2 separate regions of the Homo sapiens genome follow, and region 1 is linked to region 2. A link means that fine-mapping ties the variant in region 2 to the expression of a gene that starts in the linked region. Tissue or cell type: tibial artery. Region 2 holds a variant in brackets; the other region holds the start of a gene. All regions are shown on one strand. Distances are from middle to middle.

Region 1 (5,477 bases), 96 kb before region 2:
AGAGGACAGTTCACCCCTGAGAGACAGCAGTGATAACCAATAAAGTGAGAGATCCCAAGAGGATGTAAAACTCAGGATGGAGAGAGATTTTCTTTCCAGAGTTAAAGCTTGACATGTCTGAATCTCACCAAAGGAAATAGGCAAAATTATTTTCCAGTGTATGTGCTTCTAAACTTTTCTGTCACCTACCCACATGTCCCAGGAAAACCTCTGTAAATAGGATGAGTTATCAATGAACTCTATCTTGCTTGTTTATTTTTTATTTTGTGCTGCTACAGACAGACTCATAAGCAGAAAGAAAAGGTCATTCGCCTCTTAAATTTTAGTAAAGATAGCCCAAGCCATTATCCTCTGAGTTTGAGGCTGCTTTTCCTGTGAGATTGTTCATTCATTTATTTAATATGTATTTACTAATTCAGCATCTACTATAAGGGATCCTGAGGTGCTGGGAATACCACGGGGAGCAAAACAAAACAAGAAGCCACCTTCACAGCCTGGTGGAGGAGAGAAACTTTAATCAAATACACAGAAATATATTTAAAATCTCAACTGGGATAAGTGCCATGGTGCTACAGGAGCTTATATTAGAGACAAGGGACCTCATGCAGTTGTGAGGGAGGAGGGTTTAAGAAGGCTCCCCCCGCCCCACCCCACCAAGGAACAATTGAATTGAGACTGGAAGGATGAGGGGAGTTACTGTGGAGGGGATAGGAAAAAGTCATCTGGGAAAAGAGAACGGCCTTTTAGAAGGGCAAGGCCATCGAGAAATTAAGCTGGAGTTGCCTGAAAGATGGAAAGGATAGTGGCTGATGTATCAAGATGAGGAAGTGGCTCGACATTGGTCAGGGAGAGGTGGCGTTTCCAAGTCTGGGAGAAGGGACGAGTTCCAGGGCTGGTATGTGGATGGCGGGTGCCTGGATCTTGATGGAATATAATGCCCCAGAAGTGGCAGAACCTGTGGGTGGTGAAGGCTACATATCGGGCCTGTGGACTGTGAAAGTTTGCAATAACTGGCACTGTCTCCCTCTTCTTCCAATTGAAAGGATTAACACACAATGGTCAATATGAAAGCACAAAAGAAATGGAATACACTTTAACGAGAATTGGTATGTGTAGCAGCTTGGAACCTTGTCTTTGAAGTCAAAGCACTTAGATTTAAATCCCAGCTCTACTGTTACTGGTAAATTGCGTTCTTTTCCTAGTCTGTATCAGTTGCAAAGAAAGCACACCAACTGGAAAAAACGGCAAGCGGGTTTCATTCCTGGCCAGGAATAGAGAAGGAGTAAACTTTCACTCTAAAGACCCCCTTCTTCCAGAGCTTTGGGAAGCTGGGGAATTGTAAGGCGTTAGATGTGGAGTGGGGAGGTATGCAAGCATATGCCGGGAGGAACTCTAGACGCACAGGTGCATTTCATAAACATGCCTCTTCATACAATGCACTATCAGAAAATGGCGGCGATTCTCTTCTACGGGTCGGGAGTTGAGCATATAATGATGTATTAATGATCTAAAAGTAACAAGGGGTGGCTGGTTCTGGTTTTCTCTGGTTCCTAGTAGGCCTTATCTTTCTCTGGTACTTGGCAAAGGGCAGTGAGGATCCCGGGCCAACCGCAGTTGTTTTAAGCTGGGTTACCTATAGATAAAGAGACTAGGAAAAAAAATCAAACAAACAAAACGGTTTAAAAAACAATGAGCATTTTCAGCTGTCTACTGTTTAAGAAAATAATGAGCTCTCAGTTTTGCCCTCTGAGCGATTTCTCCAGGACTGCCCTGGTAACACTACTACTCAACAGTTTTGTGCTTTGCGCAGTTACTTGACCTCCCTGGGCCTCGGTTTCCCCACCCATAAAGTGGGGATAACAGTACCTATTTCATCAGGTGGTGGGGACGATTTAAAATGGTTAATAATGTGCAGTTCTTAAAAGTGTCTGGCTCAGAATAAGCACCATACACGTTAGGGGGAAAAACAGCAGCCGGATGTGAGGCCCTCCCCAATTTCGTTACTCCATAAACCTCTGAGTTGCTGGTAACACCTGCAGGAATGAGAAGGGCCTCAACATGGGCTGAATTTCCAGCCAAACTGTGGGAAGTGGCTGAGATTTTAGGTAGGCAAAAAATGTTAATGTAACATTTTTGGCCCCCAAGTTCTCAGACCACTTACTTCCCTTTCTAGTCCACTGACATGCCCGCAAGCAATTCCATTCTGCCAAGTGGTGCTGGTGGCAAGCCGGAATCCAAGAAAAGGAAAGACTCCGATTTTAAGGGAACGGGGACATGCGGAGCCACGTGAGTCACTGGGTCCCAGAGCCACGGAAGGCTCTCAGCTCAGCAGTCAGAGTGCACTCGTCATTGCGTTCGAGGTTAGGTGGCCTAGCCTGGGAACCAACTCACCGTCATTTGAAATCGTTTTAGGGAAAATGACCCTAACATTTAAAATCCTCTCTCCTGAAGTTGTGTGGTCCAGCCGTTTGCTGAAGGAGGAAGCAAAGCCGGTAGTAACTCACTACATATTTGGGCAGTGGAATGAACCCTGGAAGCTGACAAAGTCGAAGCAAGTCACTGCGCCGCCCCCCACCCCCACCCCCACCCCAAATAAAAACAGAGAGACAATCCTTCAATTATAAAGAAGACCACGGCGCCCGGGTCTCCGGCAGGGGCCGCTGCAGCCGAGCAGAACGCTGAGCCGCTCCGCCCCACGGCCTCCTCTCCAGCCGGCGCGCCCGCCTCCCGCAGGTGCGTCTCTGCCTGCGCCGGGCCGGGGTCTCCGCGGCCTCTCCCGCTCGGGCTCCGGCTTCGAGGTCCCGACCAAGCACTGCTCTCGCGGGACTGCGCGCACCGCCCAGGGCCTGCCGCGGGCTCGCGAGCGGAGGTGGCACCGGTCCGCGGTGCGCATGCGCGGCCCGGCCTCTGCCCTGCGGTCCCGGGCTGGTGACTGGCTAGCGGTTGGAGGAAGGGATGTGGGGGATGGTGGGTGGGTACAGAGAGCTGGGAGGGAGGCACCCCGGGGGGCGGGGCGTGGGAGACTGTATTCGGGGGCGCGAGCTGCCCCAGGTGAGCCGTGGCTCAGGTCCGGAGCGCGGTCGGGACACAGCGCCTCTAGGAGAAAGCCTGGAAGGCGCTCCGGGGGTACCCAGAGCTCTTAGCGGGCCGGCAGCATGTGCGGGGCCCAAGGTCTTCCGGGCTCTGCGTGGGGGTCGCTGCGGCTGGAGACCAGGGAGGGGGATGGAAACGGGGTTGGAAAGTAATCCCACCCGAGCAGGTGGGCATGGGAGGCCGCTGTGCTGGGGAGCCCCGCGAGGGCTCCGAACAGAGCCTCCCTTTTCAGAAAGGTCACCCTGGTCATTGCAGCTGCCAGGGTGACCGAGGAAGGTGGCCGGGGTGGAGGCAGTGGGCGTGGAGAGGGGTCGGATTCCGGACGTAGTTTGAAGGTGGAGCCGTCAGGTTCTGCTGAGCAGCTTGGCTATGGGGCGTGCGAGAAGGGAAGGCTCAGGGCCTAGTCCCTGGGCACGAGTAGTAGCCGGGAGGATGAAGTCCCAGTGCTTCGGGGGGAGGCGGCTTGAGGACGGCTCTGGAGCTCAGGCTTGCCCGCGTGGAGTGGAAGCTGCCTCTTGGACACAGGGCGGGGAGGCCGCATGCAGTCTGGCGCGCTGGGAGGATGGGAGATCCAGAGGGGCAGGGCTGGAGGGGTAGGAGGAAAACCTGAAGAGGGTGGCGCCCGGAAGCCCGGGAAAGTGATGAACTGGGTCAGAGGCCGGGTATCAACAAATAGGAGGGTGGAGACGACCTTGAGGAAAGCAGGTGATGGAACGGGAGGGAATGGGGCCCCCTAGTGGAGACACCTGGGAGTGATGTATTGCATTTATTTAGCTCTTAGGCGTTCAAAAATTATTTATTGGGAGCCTGTACAACTTTTTGCAGTTCATTGCATTATCCTTAGCATGTATTTTGTTTTATATAAATATATATTTATATAATTATTTTTATTGACAAATTTATATATTTATAGCGTACAGTGTAATGTTTTGATATATGTATACATTGTAGAAAGATTAAATCAAGCTAATTGACATATCCATCACCTCACCTACTTATTTTTTGTGGTGAAAATCTACTCTCCTGGAAATATACAATACATCATCAACTATGGTCACCATGCTGTGCAGTAGATCACTAAAACTTACTCCTCTTACCTAACTAAAACTTTGTATCCTTTGACCAACATCCCTCCCTTCCACATCAGCCCTCTGCCAGGCCCCTGGTAACCATCATTCTACTCTGCTTCTATGAGTTCAACTTTTTTAGACCCCAAGTATATAAGTAAGATCATGTGCTGTTTGTCCTTCTGTGCCTGGCTTATTTTACTTGGCCTCATGTCCTCCAGGTTCATCCATGTTGTTGCAAATGACAGAATTGCCTTCTGTTTTAAGACTGTATAGTATTCCATTGTATATATGTGCCACATTTTCTTTATCCGGTCCTCAGTTGATGGATACTTAGTTGCTTCTATATCTTGGTTATTGTGAATAATGCTGAAAACAACACAGGAATGCAGCTATCTCTTCAACATACTGATTTCAATTCCTTTGTATATATACCCAGAAGTAGGATTTCTGGGTCATGTGGTAATTCTATTTTTAGATTTTGAGGAGCCTCCATACTGTTTTCCAAAATGGCTGTACTAATTTACATTCCACCAACAGTGTACCAGGGTTCCCTTTTCTCCACATTCTGGACAAAACTTGTTGTCTTTGATCTTTTTTATAATAGCCATTCTAACAAGCGTGAGGTGGTAGCTCAGTGTGATTTAATTTGCATTTCCCTGGTGGTTAGCAAAGTTGAGCGTTTTTCATGTATTTGTTGACCATTCATATGTCTTCTTTTGAGGAATACCTGTTCAGGTTCTTTGTCCATTTTTTAACCGGGTTATTCGTTTTGTTTTGTTTTGCTGTTGAGTTTTTTGAGTTTCTTATATATTTTAGATAAGAGCCCCTTATCAGATGCATGGTTTGCAAATATTTTCTCCCAGTCTGTGGGTTGTCTCTTTACTCTGTTAATTATTTTCTTTGCTGTGCAGAGGCTTTTTAGTTTGATGCAATCCCATGTGTCTATTTTTGCTTTTGTTGCTTTTGGGGTCCTATCCAAGAAATCATTGCCCAGACTAATATGGAGTTTTCACCTATGTTATCTTCTATTAGTTTTACAGTTTCAGGTGTTATGTTTGAGACTTTAATCTATTTTGAGTTGATTTTTGTATATGGTGTGAGATAAGGACTCAATTTTGTTATCCAGCATGTGGATATTCAGTTTTCCTGATGCCATTTATTAAAGAGACTTTCCTTTTCCCATTGTGTGTTCTTAGCACCTTTGTCAAAAATCAATTGACTGTAAATACTTGGGCTTATTTCTGGGCTTTCTATTCCTGTTCCATTGGTTGATGTGCCGATTTTTATGCCAGTGCCATGCAGTTTTGATTACAA
Region 2 (5,477 bases):
GTATATGTATCACATGCTGGCAATGCAAGAAACACTTTTAAAAACCTATTTACAGTGATGTTCCACATAACAAATGTTTCGGTCAACAACAGACCGCATGTACAACAATAGTCCTATAAGATTATAATGGAGCTGTTCTATACAAGTGTGCCATTTTAAATCTTTTATACCACACATTTTTACTGTATCTTTCCTATGTGATGTATTTAGATACACAAAACCATTGTGTTACAATTCCCTATTGTAACACAATAACAAGCTATTCAGTTTTGTAGCCTAGGAGCAGAGCAATAGACCACACAACATGGCCTAGGTGTTTAATAAGCCATGTGGTATGGTCTATACCATTTAGGTTTGTGTAAGTACATTCTATGATATTCCTACAATGACAAAATCACCTAACCACACATTCTTCAGAACGTATCCCCATTCTTACGCAACACATTTTTTGTTACTGTTGTCAAAAATTAAAATTAAATAAAAAAGAAAGATCTCTAATTAGTAATCCAATTTCTACCATTAAGAATGAACTAAACCCAAAGCAGGTAGCAGAAAAGGAATTATAAAGATTAGGGGAGAAATAAGAGGAGAGACTAGAAAAACAATAGAATCAACAAATTCAAAAGTAGGTTCTACTAAGCAAGAAAAATAAAAGAAGACTCAAATTACTAAACATCAGGAATTACAAGAGTATTACTACTAAACTAAAAAGGATCATAAGAAAACAATTATTAAATACTATGAACAATGAATTACATAACCTCCTTTAAATGGACAAATTCCTAGAAAGACACAAACTACTGAAACTGCATAGTAATTTTAAAACACAAAGACAAGCCCGTGCTCAGATGGCTTCACTGGGGAAATCTACCAAACATAAAAATTAACATTAATCTTTCCCAGACTCTTCCAAAAAAGCTAGAAATACTTCCTAACTCATTCTACAAAGCCAGTACTATCTTGTTACCAAAACTAGATAAAGGCATCACAAAAAAACTACAGAAAAAATATCCTTCATTAATACAAATGCAAAAATCCTCAACAAATTACTAGGAAATCAAATCCAGCAACACATAAAAAAGATTATAAATCATGACCAAATGGGATTTATATCCCAAAAACATGAAGTTCGTTTAACAAACAAAAATCAATCAATGTAATATATTAAGAAAATAAAGAACAAAATCCATATAATCATCTCAACAGGCATAGAAAAAGAATTTCACAAAACTCATCACCCTTTCACGATTTAAAAAAAATCATGAAAAATCATGACTCAGCAAGCTTGAAACAGAAGGAAACTTCCTCACACTGATAAAGAACATCTATGAAAAATCCCCAGCTAACAGCATACTTAGTGGTAAAAGACTGAATACTTTGACCTTAAGATTAGGGACAAAAAAAAGGATGTCTTCTCTCACCACTTCTATTCAACATAGTACTGAAACTTCTACCCTGGGCAAGAGGGCAAGAAAAAGACATAAAAGCCATCAGATCAGAAAGCAAGAAATAAGCATCCTCTATTGACAGATGGCACAATTTTGTATATAGAAAATCCTAAAGAATCTCCTCCCCCAAAATTATTAAAAGTAATCAAGTTCAACAAGACTACAAGATACAAGATTAATATGCAAAAATCAGTTGTATTTCTACACACTAGAAATAATTTGAAAATGAATTTAAGAAAATACTTTCATTTGGAACAGAATAAAAAAAAAGAATACTTAGGAATAAATATAACAAAAGAAGTGTGAAATCTGAACACTAAAAACGACATTGTTGAAAAAATGAAAGAACTGCTAAGTAAATGGAAAGACTCCCCATGCCATATTCATGGATTTGAAGACTAAATGCTGTTAAAATAGCAATACTCCCCAAATTAATCTAGAGATTCAACACAAACCCTATCAAAATCCTAACTTGCTTTGCTGCAGAAATTGACAAACTGATCCTGAAATCATACACAAATGCAAGGGCCCAGTAGAGCCAAAATAATCTTGAAAAAGAACAAAAAAGTTGGAAGACTCACACATTCCAATTTTAAAACTCAATAAAAAGCTACAGTAACCAAGAGAATGTGTTGCTGGCTTAAAAACAGACATAGAGATCAATGCCATAGAATTGAGATTTCAGAAACTCTTGTATTCACGATCAATTAATTTTGTTATTGTTGTTGTTTTGCGACAAGTAAGGTCTCACTTTAACCAGGCTGCAGTGCAGTGGCATGACCACAGCTTACTGCAGCCTTTTTTCTCCCGATTAGGTGATCCTCACACCTCAGCCCCCGAGTAGCTGGGACTACAGTTGCATGCCACCATGCCTGGCTAACTTTTTTTCGCATTTTTTGTACAGACAGGGTTTCTCCATGTTGCCCAGGCTAGTCTCAAACTCCTGGGCTCAAGCAATACTGTCCACCTTGGCCTCCCAAAGTGTTGGGATTACAGGTGTGAGCCACAGCATCTGGTAGATGAATTGATTTTTGACAAGCAGGAAAAAACAATCCAGTGGGGAAAGAACTGGTTTTTTTTTTTTCAACAAATGGTACTGGGAAAACATACAAATGCAAATGAATGCAGCTGAGGTCGGGCACAGTGGCTCAAGTCTATAATCCCCGCGCTTTGAAAGGCCAAGGTGGTGGGTGGATCACTTCAAGTCAGGAGTTCAAGACCAGCCTAGCCGACATAGCAAAAGCCCATCTGTACTAAAAATACAAAAATTAGCCAGGTGCAGTGGCACATGCCTGTAGTCCCAGCTTCTCGGGAGGCTGAGGCATTAGAATTGCTTGAGCCTGGGAGGCGGAGGTTGCAGTGAACTCAGATTGTGCCACTGCACTCTGGCCTGGGTGACAGATTAAGATTCTGTCTCAAAAATAAAAAAATATTTTCAAAAAG[A/G]ATGTAGCTGGATCCCTATCTCACACCATATATAAAAATTAACACAAAATGGATTAGAGAGCTAACTGAAGAGCTAAAACTATGAAACTCTTAGATGAAAACACAGATGTAAGTCTTTCTGATAGTGGCTTAAGACAATGGTCTCTTAGATATGACATCAGAAGCAGAAGAAACACAAGAAAAAATAGACAAACTAGGCCAGGTGTGGTGGCTCATGCCTGTAATCCCAGCACTTTGGGAGGCTGAGGCAGGCAGATCACGAGGTCAGGAGATCGAGACCATCCTGGCTAACACGGTGAAACCCCGTCTCTACCAAAAATACAAAAACAAAATTAGACGGGCGTGGTGGTGGGCGCCTGTAGTCCCAGCTACTTGGGAGGCTGAGGCAGGAGAATGGTGTGAACCCGGGAGGTGGAGCTTGCAGTTAGCCAAGATCATACCACTGCACTCCAGCCTGGGAGACAGAGCAAAATTCCATCTTAGAAAAAAAAAAAAAAAAAAAAGTAGACAAACTAGACTCCATAAAATTTAAAATTTTTGTGATTTAAAGGATACTGTCAAGGAAACTAAAAGACAATTCACAGAATGGCAGACAATATATGCAAATCATATATCTGATAGGGTAACTTTTTACAGTATATATAAAGAACTCTTACAGCTCAATAAAAGGAAAACCCTACTAAAACAATGGGCAAAGGATCTGAATAGACATTTCTTCAAAGATGTATAAATGTCCAATAAGCAAGTAAAACTATGTTAATCATTAGTAATTAGAGATGCAAATCAAAAGACACTATGAGCTCTCATTTTACATACACTAGGATGGCTAGAATCAAGAAGATATGTGTTGACAAGAATGTGGAGAAACTGCAACTATCATAGCTGGTAGTAAGTAAAATGGTACAGCCACTTTGGAAAACCGTCTGGCAGCTCCTCAAAAAGTTAATCATAGGGTATCTATGACCCAGAAATTACACTCCCATTTTCTGCAATAAAAATGAAAACACATAGCCATACTATGTTACACAATTCTTCATAACAGCAATATTCTTAACAGTCAAAAAGTGTTTCCACCAACCAATGGATAAACAAAATGTGATATATTAATACAATGGAATATTAATTTGGCAACAAAAAGGAATGGAGTATTGATATATGATACAGCATAAATCAACCTTTAAAACATTAACCTTTAAAACATGTTAAGATAAAGAAGTCAGAAACGAGAGGTCACATTTTGTATAATTCCATTTATATGAAATGTCCAGAATAAGTAAATCCATAAAAACAAAATAGTTAGTTGCTGCCTGGAACTGGGAGGAGTGAGTGTTTTGGGGTTCCTTTTTCAGGTGACAAAAATGTTTAAAAATTAAATAGTAAGGGTTGCATAACTCTGTGAATATAGTAAAAATTACCAAATTGTGCATTTTTAAAGGGTGAATATGTACATGAATTATACATCTCAATACAACTCTCATTAAAAAAATAAAGATGACAACTTTGTTCCACTCTATTACGTAAACAGCTTGGAAATCATCACTCCCATCCTCACAAGAAAAAAAGCAGAACAACTGAAAATCAACTACTCTTAGAAGCACTGGAAAACTGAGTTCACAGGTCACAACACCTCCAGAAAAACTGAAGAAACATGTGAATATAGACATATGGAGCTATATTTACTCTAAAGCCAATAACTGGAAGGAACACTTTAAAAGTAAGTAGCAAACTGCTGGAGACTGAGAGTGAACTAACTTGAGCTTTAACTTGTGAGGGCTCAGTCTTAAGGAAGAATATAGGTGAGAAAAGGAGCTCCACCTGGTTTTTATTAGAGTAAAATCCCTCCATTTTGAGTAGGGAAAAGGGAAAAGTAACCATTTTGAAATCTGACCTAGAGTAAGAGCAATAATTCCAGCCCCCTCTAACCTGCCTGAGAGGAGGGAAGAAAAAAGCTTAAGAAATTCTTTTGAAGGTCCGTTCAGGAACTCTGGTCCACTAAAAAACCCAACAGATTTCATCATATGATTATAGAACACTTCTCCTCTCTACTAAACAGGGCTCCAATATAACAGATTACAACTGAGAAAATTACAAGAAATAGACTTTTTTTAATTAATAAAAGTTTCTAAGGAAACTCAAAACAAGACAAAAACCAGGAAAGTAGAGGAAAATGAAATGTCTTATACCTACAAACAATATAAATACCTAGTGAACATTAAACACAGCCTAACTCCCAGCCAGATAAACCTAAAATCTCACATTAAACACCTGTTTACCTGAGTTTCTACTACTCAATAAGCCATGTCCAGATTTCAACAAAAAATTGCAAGGCATGTAACAGGCAAGGAAAAGGTCTGAAGAGACAAAGCAAGCATCGAAACCAAACTCAGATAAGGTAGATTTTGAATGATCAAACTGGACATTTTAAATAACTCATTAAAATGCTAAGGGCTATAAGAAAGAATCAAAACAAAATGCTAGAAATAAAAAGCATTAACACAAATAAAGAATGCCTTTGACGAGCAATCAGCAGACTAAAAAAAACAACAATCAGTGAGCTTGAAAAAAAACTGGAACATGGTATTTGAG

What was found. PIP is the estimated chance that this variant, and not a neighbour inherited with it, causes the effect.
Region 1: it holds the start of SIRT5, and the variant in region 2 is fine-mapped to the expression of SIRT5 in tibial artery (GTEx, PIP above 0.99). The same link has a PIP of 0.9 or more in amygdala, atrial appendage, sigmoid colon, subcutaneous fat, thyroid and whole blood.

Annotation. Positions count from the first base shown.
Region 1 is chr6:13,571,574-13,577,050 of GRCh38, forward strand. SIRT5 (sirtuin 5) reads left to right here and starts at 3,028. Exons shown (of 10, transcript NM_012241.5): 1 at 3,028-3,171. LOC105374937 (a long non-coding RNA gene) reads right to left here and starts at 2,861. Exons shown (of 2, transcript XR_926497.4): 1 at 2,392-2,861; 2 at 499-1,648. RefSeq lists a silencer at 2,581-3,100 and enhancers at 2,793-3,379, 3,311-3,790, 3,380-3,965.
Region 2 is chr6:13,667,428-13,672,904 of GRCh38, forward strand. All of the region lies in intron 2 of RANBP9 (RAN binding protein 9), which reads right to left. Among named protein-coding and RNA genes, the nearest start is that of RANBP9, 42 kb to the right of the region's middle. The variant A/G (reference allele first, on the strand shown) is at 2,892.